Linked DNA regions of Homo sapiens: region 2 is linked to region 1. A link means that fine-mapping ties the variant in region 1 to the expression of a gene that starts in the linked region. Tissue or cell type: whole blood. Region 1 holds a variant in brackets; the other region holds the start of a gene. All regions are shown on one strand. Distances are from middle to middle.

The links. PIP is the estimated chance that this variant, and not a neighbour inherited with it, causes the effect.
Region 2: it holds the start of RTKN2, and the variant in region 1 is fine-mapped to the expression of RTKN2 in whole blood (INTERVAL, PIP above 0.99).

Annotation. Positions count from the first base shown.
Region 1 is chr10:62,236,618-62,245,114 of GRCh38, forward strand. RTKN2 (rhotekin 2) reads right to left here. Exons shown (of 12, transcript NM_145307.4): 4 at 4,525-4,578; 5 at 3,031-3,148. Among named protein-coding and RNA genes, the nearest start is that of LINC02621, 18 kb to the right of the region's middle. The variant A/AC (reference allele first, on the strand shown) is at 3,644.
Region 2 is chr10:62,265,363-62,273,818 of GRCh38, forward strand. It overlaps RTKN2 (rhotekin 2), which reads right to left and starts at 3,482. Exons shown (of 12, transcript NM_145307.4): 1 at 3,189-3,482. The coding sequence starts at 3,248. The region is part of intron 1 of LINC02621 (long intergenic non-protein coding RNA 2621); the gene reads left to right. RefSeq lists a silencer at 3,234-3,563.

The sequences.
Region 1 (8,497 bases):
TATCTGCACTCCCCTGTTCATTGCAGCATTATTCACAATAGCCAAGATATTGAAGAAACTATAAGAATGCAGCATTATTCACAATCGCCAAGGTATGTCCATCAATGGTAAAACAGATAAAGAAAATAAGCTACGTGTGTATACACACACACAACGGACAACCATTCTGCCTTAAAAAAGGAGATCTTGCCATTTGCTACAACACGGATGAACTTGGAGGATATTAAGTTAAATAAGCCAAGCATAGAAATGAAAATATTGTGTGTTCTCAATTATATGTGGAATATTAAAAAAAAAAGAGCTCAAAACCATAGAAATAGAGAAAAAAACAGTGGTTACCATGGGCAAGGACTGGGGGAGAGGAAATGGGGAGATATAGGTCAAAGGACACAAAATAGCAGATATGTAGGATGAATAAGTTTAGAGATATAATGTACTGTAAAAACATGAGGTGAATGTTAATCAAATCATGTTAGAGATTTTTGTTAAATAGATTTTAGCTGCTTTTGTCACAAAAAGTAACTATGTGAGATGATAGATGTTAATCTGTTTGATTATAGTAACATTTTACTATTTATATGTATCCTGTAACATCGTGTTATAAACCTCAAATATACACAATAAAATTTCTTTTTAAAATAAATAAAAGACTGCAGGGGAGCCAAGAGAAGATTGCAAAATCTCCTCAATAAGTGCAAGGTTTATGGGAAAAAAAATAAGAATTTGGAATAAGTTTATGTTAATGTATGTTAATGAGACAGAATCTCTCAGTGTTTATTTAGCATCTAAATGGCCTGAGAGAGTTACCGCAACTTTCACAGATATCAGCTTCAAAACTAGGGCAATCTTAACTCAATTTAACCAATATATACATAGGCATGTTAAAGAAAGCATAAAATACCCTGGTCATTTTGTTGCCAATACTATTTCTCCTTGTCATTCCTTTAATACATTTTTAAGGTATTTATATGTGTAATTTTCTGAAATGACTGTTCTTCCAAAAAAAATCTGCTAAACCTTTAGTTTTCATTTCTTCTTTATAAAGAGTCACTTATAGTGCACTCGTCACTGTGTCCCCTGACCCTCCCCCACTTTTGTACCTAATAACTATAAATAACATTTTACTATCTGGTTATACAGGGGAAAAATGTACTTCAAAGCATGAACTCCTTGAGAATGGGTGCTGTCTGGGTGATCTTTGTGTTCTTAATCTAGTATTGGCCTGGAATGTAGGAGGTATTAGATATATATTTATCAAATAAATACGCAAAATTCTGCAATTTTAGCAAATGTTAAGATTGGCTTTACCCTTTTTCAGACACAACGAACTACCTTTGAACTACCTTTAGCATTAAAGACTGTGGTGGTGTTACTAACAATAAAATATACTTAAGACTGCAAAAGAGGTCCATCAGCAGCAGATGTTACTTGCAGATGGAAGATCCATCAGTTTCAGAGATTTAAAAAATGGAGCACAGACTTTTAAAGATATAAATGGCCAATCTATAGTTTGAAAAAATCCCAGGAATAACTTCCAGCTATTTTTATAGTTTATTATTTGGCAACTTTTAAACATGCAGTATTCCTGGTAATGACTAACAAATGTCAATATTTAGAGAAAAACCAGAGATTCATAAATATTGAATACTTATTAAAAACAATCATCATAACAAAAAGCACATTTTTCAACATGTAGAACATTTGTCAGCAGTTATTTTTAGTACAATTTAAAATATTTACAGAATTCTCAAAAAATTATAAATCATGTGTTGTCTTCCTCAGTAACTTCTATTGTTCTTTCCCTGGAAAAAAAAGTCTGATTTTTGTCTCCATGATCAAAACAAACAATAGCAAAATGATGTGAAGAAAAGGGCCCATCAACTGGTAATTTTGGCAGAAAAAAAAGTTCACTAGCAATAGTTGATAATGGAAATAAATGTATTCAGATAACCAAGAAAAAAGTAATTTTTTTAGCCTCAATTATATAAGCATTTGGGGATATGTTTTGGATCCTAAATAAATTCCTTTGGTTCAATACAGCTTGTAAGAAGGCCTGAATTACTACTTATAACTCAGAACAATGCATTTTATTTTTCCAGGCTATACTATTACTATGAGACACTGGACCAGAAGCTACAAAATATGGTTTACTATAGGTTTTTTTAATGTTATGTGAGTGGCAAAACTAGGCCTCTAAAATCTCACCTGTCTAGCTCCATAGCTGAAAATGGCAAAAACCATGCACATGGATTTTTATATTAATAGTTAGTAGCTATTAACATTTAGATCTAAAGATCGTGTCTTTAAAAGTCTAAAATACAAATCCCACACTGATTTAGGCACATAGAACCTTTGAAGGAGGGCAGGAAAAACTATGTTAGTTAAAAATGATTTCTATGGCTACCCAAGGAGTTCCTTCTTGTTCTGTATTATGACCACAATAAAATGAGCCTGTAAAAGAGCAGGGACAATAAAAACAGCCCTGAGATCACCCATTTTTTTTTATTGCTTTGAAGTACATGAAAGAAGTGCACCATAAGAAAAAGAACACCCCAAAATTTCAAAGTGCTCTTCCTATATAGCATGTACTTCAGGACTATCTTGTAAATAAAGTTGCTATACTATTTTAGTATTTCTGCAACCAAATATCCTACATGAGATAAAAATCCTGTTTTATGCTTAAATTCTCTCTATATCAAATAACATTACAGGATATTCTGTTGTATGCATAGCTTTGTTAATAACTGAACTATATTTATTAACAATTTAAAAATGGGTCATATCTAATAAGTCAAATATTTACTGCTAATAGTAATTACAAGATTTCCATTTTTATTTCACATCAGAAAACTGCAGATAGAGAAATGGACTTCTTCTGAACAAAATGATTTTTAAAATCATATTAAACATTTAAAGATCACTTAAACATTTAAACATAAAATGAATCCAAAGAACCAATAATAAGAACTTTCTTTTAAAAAAGAAGAATTTTAAATTATTTTTATTCTCTGAAGATTAAAAAATACTTACAATATGGTTACATTTTCAAAACATATATCTGTGATTGTTTTATCCACATTCACCACATCAGTATCAAACACATTAGCTCCCATTTTGAATAAACAAAAAATGGCATAGCGTCGTGATCCTGGAGGAAAAATAACAACATATTAAGCAACAATCCATGTAATAAATCATTGTTAAAATCTACTTGAAAATAAATATTAGGTTAAATATTATTAATAGATTCTTTTCATACATTGTATACTGTAACCCTTAAGTCTTACAGTGACTGTTCTCCCAGTATATAGGAATACCTTACTCAACTAGAACACAATTAAACAAGGAAGCAAAAAATAAAGTTAAATATACAGGCCTCTCAGCAGCCTAAAGAAACCACCAAACTCATAAATTTTATTCCTATTAAACTTCTTAAGCTTTAATTAATAGTAAACTTTATATACACACATGCGCGGGCATGCAAGCGTGCACACACACACTACTACTACCGCTGTCATTTTGGTTTCCAAGTCTATTTAAGAAAAAGATGTTTTTTATTAGAAGAGGTTAAGAGTAGGCACATTAACGACAGCAAAATATTTTCCACCAAACTAACAGCAAGGGAGGAAACCACAAGAAAAAA[A/AC]AAAACAAAACAATAAAATAGACATGAGAACACAAAAAACATAGCTGCTGGGCCTTTTGATTTGGTGATGTTTTAAAAAGTATTAGGTGATTAAAAGGCTAAATCCTCATTATTGAGAAAATGTAGCTCTTCAGAAAAACTTACTCTCTTTAGTAATCAGAAAGCTTTACTTAATTCCCACATGTATTCCTTTGTAAAGTAAATTATATTTCCTAATTGAATAATAAATACTAACCTGATTTTAAATTCTTCATATAAAACTAATTGTGCTTAATATGATTCAGTTTTTAAAGTACAAGGAACAAAGCTATCACAATAGACAAGAAAGATAAAGTATTATCATATCTTTCCTGCTTTGCCTCTAATAGCTAGAAATCATTCGAGGTTAATTTCCATGACCTAAGCAATACACGGATTTGTAAAGACTGTATAAAACCATAAAATATTGAAGGAAAAAAAATCAGATCAAGCTAAAAATCTTTCCCTATTTCATCCTGTTAAATAACCTGAAGTAATGAAATAAGGCAGAAAAATCTTCCAGATTCTGGTCAAATACAAGAAATGTTGGCTTTACCTTTATTCGCTAAACATTTTCTTTTGTTCCATATTTCCCTTCCCCCGTTCCCACTCTGAACCCGGTACTTACTGTCCTAGCACTGGTTCCTATCAACAACTAAAAGTACACTACATATGCACTATATTAATTAGTATCAAGTGACTGCAACATATTTATATTAAAAATCAGAAAACAGTTCAAGATGCTGCTTATTCTTTCAAATGACATCAATTTATTTCAGCAAGGAAGCAGTCTTTTTTCTCAATAATCAGATACACTACATACTAAAGAAAACATTTCAATTACAAATTAAAATCATACATACGTTCTTTATTGCTGAAGTGATCAGAGTCTTTCCACATTAGTGGTATTCGAATATCTATAAAGAAGGGAAAAAGAAATGACAAGTAATAATTTTGGTAAGTTTTATTCTTTACAGTGACCTGAACCTCTGCATTCCATAATAATTCTGACTACTATAGCTAAAATAAAGTGTTATTATTTAACAGCACATTTTCTAGACATTGTTTATAGTTTGTACTTTTAAAAAGTTAATCTGTCAAATTTTTGTGAGGTAAAAATATATTCTTCTTATAAAAATAACTGTTCTAACTCCATATATATCTGTTTCTTCCTTACTGATTAATTATGACATCTTTATCATATATGCCATTCTGAGTAAATGTCTGTTCCTTGGCTATACTTTTATGAATTTGAATCATTTATTAATTACTGTCTAGCTAAATACCAACACCATACTATTTTTCTTTTTTTTGTTTTTTGACAGGGTCTTGCTCTGTTGCTCAGGCTGGAGTGCAGTGGTGCCATCATGGCTCACTGCAGCCTTGAACTCTAGGGCTCAAGCAAACCTCCCACCTAAGCCTCCCATGTAGCTGAGATTACAGGTGTGTGCCATCTGTTGCCCAGGCTGGAGTGCAGTGGCACAATCTCAGCTCACTGCAACCTCCGCCTCCTGGGTTTAAGTGATTCTCCAGCCTCAGCCTCCCGAGTAGCTGGGACTACAGGCATGTGCCACCACGCCTGGCTAATTTTTTTCTATTTTTAGGAGAGATGGGGTTTTACCGTGTTAGCCAGGATGGTCTTGATCTCCTGACCTCGTGATCCGCCTGCCTAGGCCTCCCAAAGTGCTGGGATTACAGGCGTGAGCCACTGTGCCTGGCTGCCTAATTATTATACTTTTTTTTTTTTTTTTGTAGAGACAGAGTTCACTATGTTTGCTAGGCTGTTCTTCAACTTCTGGGCTCAAGCAATCTGCCCTCCTTGGCCTCCCCAAGTGCTGGGATTACAGGCATGAGCCACCATGCCTGGCAACACTATACTACTGTTAACTATTGTACCTTTATAATATACTTACTAATTTGTTAGATATATTTCTTTTTTGAAAACACCTTACTCTTACTTGCTAATTTCTTTATATAAATTTTAGAACAAATTTTGTCAAAATTTCCCTTTCCCAAGTGTTTTATTAGTATTCCATTATCCAAATTAATTTGGGAACTGATAACTTTATAATATTCTATCTTTACACAGAATAGCATAATAATTTGTCTTTACATTTTTATTAAGGTTATTCTTGAATAATTAATATTTTTGTTTTTTGGAGGTTTTCTTGTAAAGGGTATCTTTTTGCTATTATATTTTCTAATTAGTTATTGTTGATTTTAAGATAAACTACCACTTTTTGTATATTTATCTTGAATCCAGCCACTTTTACTGAATTCTTTATTCATTCAAATAGTGTTGCAGTAAATTCTCTTAAGTTTTGTAAGTCTACAATCTATTACCTTTTTTTTTTTGAGACAGCGTCTTGCTCTACCACCCAGGCTGGAGTGCAATCGTGCGATCTCACTGCAACCTCCATCCTCCCCTACCACCCCTGCCCCCGGGGTTCAAGTGATTCTCCTGCCTCAGCCTCTGGAGTAGCTGGGTTTACGGGCATGCACCACCACACCCGGCTAATTTTTTGATTTTCAGTAGAGACAAGGGGTTCACCATGTAGGCCAGGTTGGTCTCGAACTCCTGACCTCAAGTGATCTGCCTGCTTTGGCCTCTCAGTGTGCTGGGATTACAGGCATGAGCCACTGTGCTGGGCCTACAATCTATTATCTTCAAACAGTATTCAATTTATCTATTTATTTACTTTTTAAATTTTATTATTATTATACTTTAAGTTTTAGGGTACATGTGCACGACGTGCAGGTTTGTTACATATGTATACATGTGCCATGCTGGTATGCTGCACCCATTAACTCATCATTTAGCATTAGATATATCTCCTAATGCTATCCCTCCCCCCTCCCCCCACCCCACAACAGTCCCCAGTGTGTGATGTTCCCCTTCCTGTGTCCATGTGTTCTCATTGCTCAATTCCCACCTATGAATTTATTTTCAATAGTTTCATCTTTTATTCTTATTATTTTAGCTAGAACTTCTAAAATTGTTAAATTATATTGGCATAACAGACATTGTAATTTTGTTTTTGATTTTTATGAGAATGCTTTATTGTTTTGTAATTATGACTTGGCTGATATCCTGCCAAAAAGTCCACTTCTTCTTGCTTGACCACAGCTGCTGACTCATTTCATTTCACAACTGTACTTATTCACAGCTGTTCTTGCTCTGTTAGGATTAACAGAGCATTAACTATTTACACTATCATGGGAGGGACATGGATCCTGACTTCCTTTGCTGTACACCCACAACCTGTGGGTCAGCCTTCTTCTATCCCATGCCGAAGAGAGGAGGGTAGATATCAGCTCCACAAGAGGAGAAGCTGGATACCGATTTTCCAGGTAGTCTTGTGCTCTTCAGATAGCAATGGATTTGTAACCCATCAACTCTATTTCTGAATTCAGCTTCCAATGATAGAACTTCCTTCCAGATTCTTGCAAATGGCTCAGTTTCAGTTTACAGTACTCTAACTTTTGTCTTGTTTTATGTCTTCATTGCCATTTTAATGGTAAACTGGGAGAGTCATAATAAGACAGCTGACTTGATGCTATCAAGTCCCAGAAGTCTGTCTATCATTTTCAAAAGTGAAAACTAAGGTACTTGGTGAACTGATTTGGTTTATTCATTAAATTAGTAGTCGGTGACTAAGCTAATTACCACAATATAATTACGGTAAATACTACATTTACATATGGTAAATATTTGATGTTCAGCAGAAATAATAAATTTGTGATTTAGTTTCATAAAGACCTGGCCAGGGAGTGATGTAGCTGGAAACAGAAAACCCAGGTATTTTCTGGCTATCAATGTAATCTCAAAACATTATGACACTTTGTTGCAAATATTCATCTTTACCAAAACAAAGGTCACATTTTCATCCCAATATCAAGAAAAAATGGATTTATAAAGGTGAATTCATTTTTTATTTTGTTTTTACAAACACATACAAGATATAATTAAGTCTAGGCAAAGATGAAAAGACATTACGTAAGTATCCGATTTTCTCAGAGTTTCCGTTCCTTAATTTAAAATTATCTTTTGGAAAGAAGAAACACATGCAGAAATAAGTTCAATTTTTACACTTGAGTAATTGTGGGCAGGAAATAGTTTTTTATTTTATTTTAAATACTTTTACTTGAGCCTCCTTCTAAATGTACAGTTATTTCTAATATTATGAATTGCTACAATCAATAAACTGTTATGAAATGACAATAGATGTTGACTATCATGGCATTTGAGTGTTTAACAGCAACTTAACATATGTCATTTATATACTGAGTGACACTATATTAGAAGCAAGAAATGAAGGATATGTTTAGTTTTTATAAAATCTCAAAGATCTATAGTAATTTATTCACAAAAAATTTATTGCACATAATGAACAATACCACATAAAAATACATGTTTGATAGCAAAAGAATACAAGGATAAAACATGTTTTGTTTTGTATTATAAAGATAAAAACAAATATAAATAACTATAAAACAAGCAACAAATTTTTACATATTCCAGTTATTTTCTGAAGAATATTTTGCTTAGCTGAATGCAATTCTTCAGATTTTGGCCATTTACGTACTTTGTAAAATGTAGGTCTACCGTCCTGTGTGATAATTTTGTTTATCCAGAAAAATATTACTAGAAACAGTTCCTTAGGTGACAGTACCTCAAATGTAGCAGCAGGCTCTCTAGTACAAGACTTTTAGCCAATAACCTAGTGATTACTTAAGGACCAATGGAGGTATATACTATTGTTTCAAAAATGTACTGATAAGAAAATATTTGTAAAAGTGCATTATCTGACTAGTGTACACACGAGTCAGCCATGT
Region 2 (8,456 bases), 29 kb after region 1:
GCAAAGCTGAAAATACTTACTGTTTGCCCCTTTATAGAAATAGTTTACTGACCCATAATCCAGCCAAATTAACATACACAGTAAACTATAATCTTACCTCCCTCGCTGAGGCAGGTCTCAGGCAAATGTCAGTTAAGTGGATCCCAGAAGGCTAACATAAGCAGGATGAATTGTTAAGTGTACATATGGTTTTCAATGTATTCTGAGCTGTTGGTTTTTTTTTTTTTCTTAAGGCTACTGTTTTAGCCAGTTTTGTATTTCCCATGCAACTTCTTTTAGTACACATCTACATTTTACATGCAGAAAAAGCCTCTCTGGTTAAGCAGTGCTAGCTCTAGCAAGGAAGGGTTTATGGAACCAAAACTCTTTAGAGTTGTCTTTAGTTACTAAGGGTATACAATGCATCAGGGGTAAGGGTTCATGTCTAGTGCTATCCCCAGCAAGAATAATGATCATGTAATAAGGGTACCGATTGGGCATTCAATAGTGATGTTTATTAACCTCAAAGAAGATGAGTAGGGAATGGAAAATCATCAGTGTCGCTCCCTCAGCCATAATGGCTTGGCCAGGTAGAGTCAAGGCTGATTAGGACCAAAGACAAAAGCTGGTCTCTCTGTAACCATTCCTTTTAGGATTGTTTGAATGCCAGTCTCCAGGAACAGCAGAGAATGAGGTAAGGCCATCATACTCTTATTTCTTTTCCAATTTTCTGAGTAAGGGCTTGCCTCTAATCAAGTCAAACAGAAGCCTGTGTCACTGTCCTGACGCTATAAGTAGTTAAAGTCAGGCTGATAAAAATATATGGACAAGGCTATGAATGAAATAGGAGCATACCTTAAAAACAGAAATTTAGGTTAAGTAGGAAACAGAAACCTACTAGGTTTTAAGAGCTAGCCTAGCATGAAGGAAGTGCAAAGAAAATGGCTTTATTGTTGGTATTAAAAACTGACTAAAAAAACCTGAAGTTGAACTCCCGGTAAGACAACCGCAGTAATCAAGACAGAAACTATGATTCACCTAATGGATATAGTTAAGCCATGTTAACAAAGACCAAGGTGAAGAAGAAAAGAGTAAATACAGTACGTTCTCATTTTGCTAAAAGAAACTGTGTGGATTTTAAGAATTGTTTATGTACAGAAAAAAGTCTGGAAATTGTTAACAGCGGCCATTCTGGGGAATGGAACTGGAGACCGAATTCTTAAATTCATGTTTCTGTATATGTTGACTTTTCTGCAATGAGATAGTATTACTTTTTGAATTTTATTTTTATTAAGATGCCAAAAGCTTAAACATTTGTAAGAAAAGTAGGGGACTGCCCTAACCACTCAGATGAATAGGACAAAGGATAATAACAACAATAGTCATCTCTGAAGCACATCCTGAGTGCTAGGTGCTGTGATAAGTACTTTAGAGAGGTTCTCCAATTCCAACAGCTGTCTGGGATAGGCGGAATACCCAAGCTACAACGGTGGAAACTGAAACTTAGAAAACAGAGATAACTTATTCAAGGTTGCACAACAAGAAGAGTTTGGTTTGACCTGAATCTGACTCCAAAGCCAATACTCTATGCTGTGAGGAGTCGCAGAGGACTCCAGGGTTTCAGCAGAGGTGTTTGACCAGTGTGTGACCACCTCAAAATCTTTGGCCTTATCTCGATTACGTGGCAGCTTCATTCATGTATCAAAGGAAATACCAAATAAAAATTCAGTGTTAGTCAAGTATAAAATTATCTGACTCTCAATATTCCTGTTAGGTTGCAACCTACTACTATTTTGTGTTTTTTCTTCAAATCCAAACTGAGGAAGTAATTCCACATTTCAATCATTTTGATTTTGTCCTGCCTAAGAAATTAAGTATTGTATCTTCCCACATGTAAATAACCCAGGCTTTATGTATATTTAAACATTTATTTTCATTCCATGCAACTAAACTTCATGATTTTATCCTCTTGTCGCTTCTGTACCATTCCTATTCTTGCAGCCTGCAGCTCAATAAATACACCTGGACAGCTACACCTACACCTATATGATAGGTGCAAGAACATCAATAGAATGGCAATTCACTATAAATCAAGATTTTGTTAGCAATCAGGACAGCCAAAGTACATAACAGGACAGGACTGAAAAAAAGTACATCAAAATCTTTGAAATTTTTGAAAATGCTGGCATAAAACAGCATAAGTATTACTGATAAAGACACTGGACTTCTTTTGCATAATGAATCTTAATGTCTTGCTTTATTTTTCACAGTATTATTGAAAACTAATAATTTTGTGTCTGCTAAGGAAATCCCAGATTTTTAAACAAAGATATCAGGTGCCTCCATATGAATGAAATTGCAAATATTCTACCAATTTTGACCTACAAAACTGGCAATTTCATATGGCTTAACCTATTTCTGAAGTAGGTAAAAGAAGGTAGAGATTAAAATAGAAGTGAAGGTCCAGCTTAAAGACATCAGAGTTTTCTTTTAAGACCCTAAAGTTATGGTTAAGAGTGAAAAGTGGTAACATTTTAATAACTGATGCTGCCAAGAAATAATGTTGGTTTAGTAAAAAGTAAAATAAAAAGGTTTCTAACGCATTTTACATGGCTCAAAAGCAAACATCAAACTTCTATCCAATGTCACGTGTACTCCCTCTTTCCTTTCAAATGATTTGAGAAAGAACCCAGTATCAAACCTTCAACTTTTTCTAAAGTGCAGAGGTTGCTGTTTGCCTCTACTCCGCTCCGAACCCCCTCCCCCCAACCAGTTCTGTGTTGTGTGTAGACATCGCTCCATTACTGTGCTTCCCATTAAATCCGTAATAAGCCAGCTGTCCACTGGCCTCGCTGGGTTTCTTGGGAATCGAGGGGCTCCCATTTCCCCGGCATCACCTACACCTGCAAAAAGACAGGCGTCCAAAGCCTGGGGAGGGCAGCGGACAGGTGCGCCCGCAAACGCGCGCCTGGACCCCGGCACCGCCTTCCCAATCCGGACCTCAGCTGCCTGAGAAACTCGGGGGTTCCGATGTCCAGGCCCTTTAGAGCCCCAAGAGCGCAGTCTCCTAATCCCTCCCTTTGTTTCTGGCCACCGCTGAAATAGAGGAGCGGGGGAGAGGCTTTCCCGACTCCTCCACAAAGCAAATGCGCGAGGAACAGAACCCCGGCTCCCTCACCTTCCGCGGCAGGGTCCCTCCCGCAACTCACCTGCTGGGTGGGAAGCCCCGCCAGGCGGAGCGCAGGACCCCTCAGGCTCGGCCCCTCCATCTCCAACGCGAACTGTCCGGGCCGTCGCCACTCCTTCAAAGGGAAGATTTGAAAAGCCCGCCCCTGGCAGGAGCCGCAGAGGACGCCAACCGCCCGGCCGTACCAAGTCCCAGTCGCAGGGGCCGGGGGCGCAGGAGGAGCCGGGCCGAAGCGCACGCGCAGTGGGCGCGCCTTGCGCTCTGCAGCTCCCGCCGCCGGAAGTTGCCGAGACCCCAGGCTCTAGCGCGGCGGGGCGGGGGAGAGGGCGGCGGTGCCGGACTTAAGTCCCGGACAGGGATGTGGGCGGGCCTGGGACGGGAGTGGGAGGGGCCGCGGGGAAAGCTTCGGCGGCGGAGCGCACCTGTCCCAGCTCAGGTTTCTGGCTGGTGGTTTTCGTGGCACGCCCTTTGCACTGGGAGCTTTCTGCCCGCATCCCACCGAAGGCCTTCCAAAGTGATCGTAGCTGGACAGACTCGAGGCTGCAGTCCCTGTACTCCCAGACAACTCAGGAACCCACAGCGTCACTAAGAGCCCACGGTCTCGTTCCTAAAGAACCAATAACATTACTCTCAAACACAGCGCTCTCTGTTTCCTCTCACCTTTCCCAGCGTTGTCACCAGGGTCACCCAGATATCATGGTTTTATTCATCAGGTTCGTGAGATACTATGTCAGGCATTTCACAAGGTCTTGTCTTTGCCCCCAGTGTTTATAATCCCAGATGTTCCCCGCCAACTACTCTGTCCACTTACTTTGTTTTCTTGCGAAGGATTTCTTTCAGCTCTCTCGCCCTCTCTTTCCCTCTCCAACATCTAAGGTGATAGCAAAATGGGGTACTATTTCTCAAGAGCCTCATTTCTTGCTGCCCTAAAGATTAGCACAAAGACCCATTTTAATTCATGGATTTTGTTAATTATAAAGGGAAACATGGGATTTTTAAAAATCAAAATGAAAGCAGCAAAGATATCACACCCTTGAAAAGTCCTTAAAATTCATTGTCCCTAGTTTATCTTTATTTCCCCCTTGAAAAGGCAAGAGGAAGCCTCTTCTTGAAGAGTCTACCAAATCAACCCTCCAGCCCTCATCGCCTAGAAACCCTTGGGCATTTTTCCTCCATAAATAGGTGCCCATGTTTTTTCATTTGCCTGGGACAGACCCTGTCTGGGTCTGTTGTCCCAATGTTGCACCAATCTTGCACTTATCCCGTAGTGGATATTATGTGGTCATTTTAACTGCAAGACCCTTTTAAAAGCAGTTGGTTTGAGAATGTACTTTAAAAATATAATGGATACCCTTCCTCAAATAGGTAAAATGCCTCTTTAAGACCTTTTGGACTAGGTGATACTAGAAGCTTCCCAGTTGGGAATGATGGTCCCCTTGCATTATGAATGACCCATATCCTTACAACAATAAAATATGTGTTCAAAATTATCAACACGGAGCTCACCTCGTTTTCTACAAACACAGGTCTGAATTTCAGAATCATTATGTGCCCTTTCCTCCAATGCACATCTCTGTCTTATGCTACCACTTTGTGGTATAATTATCTCCTACTCAGTATGAGGCTGCATGAGCCTAGCTGTAGTACCTGACTCAAAAGAAAAACACACCGCGAGCCCATCATCAGACACATAGTACTTACAACACATACAGCTCTCAGTTGCAGATCAAAATACATGTAGAAGCCAGCACTTCATTAAAACAGAGGTGAGTCAACCAGTTTAGAATTGGACACTGATAGAGGAGTATTTGATGAGTTAAAACCAGATATTTAACTGGAGATACATTTATTTATGATACTAGAAGAAAGAGATTAGGCAAGATCATATTTAGTAATTATCTGTAGAATACAGTTGTTACAAGAGACCTTTCTCTTGGGAGAAGAAGTTATGATGTGGTCCTGTTTTTATTATACACCGGGAGAGGTCCCCAGGAATTGCTTAAGTACTTAATTATTATATGATGATTAAAATACCTTGGAGTAGGACTTATGTTTCCTTATTTATCCTCAAGTCCTTACTTGTTACTGCTAATTTCATCAGCCAGTTTTCTCTGGTGTATGTAATGCACATAAAATATACTCATCCATGGAAACTACAAAATTTAAAGAGTTCATATGCAGTGGCTTCATTAGCTTGAGGATTTCTCTATCAATCTATTTATTTTACAGTTCCCAGAAAGTGAGAAGTACTACGTTTTACCATCTCAAATATCTGAGAGAGAACATTTGGGCATCTCTTAACCCATCATCCCTGGGCTCTTACAGAAGGTCGATATCCACCGAACTGCCCAGATGTAGTAGCTTCAGCTAGAGGATGAGTGATGGAATTACTGTCCTACCAATATTACTTCTCACTATAAGGTCAATATTTAATACTAATTAAAAATATACGTATATTAGTTATCCCTAATATAGCAGATAGTATTATAATAAATTAAAAACTACAGAAGCCAATCTAGATAATACCAATAGATGCCAAAGTATATTTTTCTTCTCTTATTTTCTGTATTCTTGTTTTAAACTAAGAGGCTAAAGGAAAACACTGAACTTAAAATCAGCTCTCTGTTACACAACAGATCCATTATTTTGAAAAATGTGGTTTGACACAGAACAGATAACTTGTGATTTTGAATATCCTCCTAGCCTCTCTTATAAAAAAAAAGTCCTCTTAAAAATTCTCTTGGTGCTTTCTTTTACTCATCTGTTCATCTTGTAGATAATCTGTTTAGGTTGAACTGAATAAATTAAAGTTATATTTTGAATTATATATGGAAGAAACAGAGAGAAAGAAGGAACTGAGGTCAAGGTGCTAAGCAGAAGTGCAGCATTTTCTTAAATGAATGTCTATGAATAGCTGAAGCATCACATAATCAGAAGGAGGCTATGGAATGTGGAGTCTGAGGATTTATTAGCCCGATTACCTTGGGCAAGCCACTCAGTTTTCTTATCTATAAAACAAGTATATAATACCCATCTTGTTTTTTAAAGTTGTTGGGAGACTCAGATAAGATTTTTGAGAGTGCTTTGTAAACTGTCCCACAAAAACAGGAGTTGTTACTACTGTAGGAAGAAAACATGAGTACCGAAAGGCAACTGTAAAGTACCTATAGAACTATGAGAACTGAATGAGAAAAATGTATGTGAATTGGATATATTCAAGATATATCACCTACCACTGCTAAATAATATGCTATATATAAAGAACTCCTATAAATCAATAAAAATTCAACTGGAAAATGGTCAAAAGGTATGGTAGGCATATTATAGGAGAGTAAATCCAAGTGACAAATAAAATAGGAAAGGTTGCTTAACCTTATTATTAGTCTGTGAACTGCAGATTAAGATCCCAAAGAGATATTTTACAGTCACTAGATTGAGAAATATTAAGAAATCTGATAATACTAGGGGTTGGCAAAGATGCAGGTCCAAGAGATATTATATGCTGGTGGAGGAGATAGAAATATGTCCAATCACTTTGGAAAAAACAAATTTAGAACAGTCTTGTAAAGTTGAAAATGTGTTTACCTAGCAATTCTGCTCCTTGGTATGTATCCTGTGGGAAATTCTTGCAAATTTGTATAGGCAACATTGCTTATCATAGCAAAAGTATTTTTAAAATCCAAATGCTCATTTCAGGAGCATGGATTAATAAATTGTGGTGATTTACCCAGTAGAATGTCACGTATCTTTTAAAAAATAAGCCATAATTATGTTTAGTAACATACACATAACTAAATCTTAGAAATACTGAATGAAGAGAACTAGTTGCAGAAGAGTACGCAGAATATATAATATTTGTAAACTTGAATAACAAGAGACTCTAAACAACACATTGTTTAAGGAAACAGGTGTGTGATAAAAGTTTATTCTTAACAGTAAAGGAATGCTAAAAACAAAATTCAGGCTAATGGCCAGCTTTGGAAGGAAGGCAGGAGAACAGGATAGTCACAGAGCCTGCAGATATAGAGCTACTTACTTGTCATGTTTTAGTTCTTAAGTTGGGTGATGGGTTCACCAGTATTAATTGTAATGTTTACCTGGTAACTTACATATATAACATATATTTAGTATGCATCAAACTTTTCATAATAAGAAATTTTTAATATGTAAAAAGGTCCTTGTAAATGTTAAACAATAGTGATAACGTGTGGGTTTTTTATAAAACTAATAATACATATTATTATAATATAATAATACATGTTTTAAAACTAATCAAACATATTTTGGCTTACAGAATTTGACTTGACATTTGATCCATTACCTTTGTATTTTTATTATGTGAAAGCATGGAAAACACAGCTGTAATGCATTGGTACCTATAACCAGAAAAAAGATGCTGAAGAATTGGCTATGTAGATTTATTTGTGCACACTTAAGAACCACTGCTTGGGAGAAGTAAGGGGTAGGAGTCTGGCAGAATTTGCAAGGGATGAGAGCTCTTGTCAGCAGACGGGAACAAAATTAAGTGCAATTTAAGTTATTACTGTCAGTGTGACCTACATATTACATACAATCCTGAGGAAATTCAAGTGACATTATAATCAGAATGCTCTTTACTCACCAAGCAAATCAGTCACAGGAATTAGTTGTATAACTTGAATCGGTGGTTCTTAAATTGGGGGACACAAAGACTTTGCAAGGCCTGAGTATATGTAAAGGTCTGACTGTTTAAAGGAACGCATTGTTAAGATTTTCAACTTAGGTTCCCTCATTCTGAAATTGATTGGCCTAACAACTTACCTTGCTGTCTAGGCCTCCCCTTGGTCCCCCTTTCACAATCACCTTTTCCCATTTGACAAAAGAAAGCCATCACTTCCACCCATTGCATTGTCCTGGAATATAAAAACCATCTGGAGGTCAAAGGGACCGTTAAAATTATTGGTATTGGGCCGGGATTAGTGGCTCAGGCCTGTAATCCTGCACTTTGGGAGGCTGAGGGGATGGATCACCTGAGGTCAGGAGTTCAAGGCCAGCCTGGCCACCATGGTGAAATCCCATCTCCACTAAAAATACAAAAATTAGCTGGGTGCGGTGGCAGGTGCCTGTAATCCCAGCTACTCGGGAGGCTGAGGCATGAGAATTGCTTGAACCCGGGAGGTGGAGGTTGCAGTGAGCCAAGATCACGCCACTGCACTCCAGCCTGGGTGACAGAGTAAGACCCTATCTCAAATATACGTATATATATATATTGGTATTGATTCTACATTAAGTAATAGTTACCTATGAATAC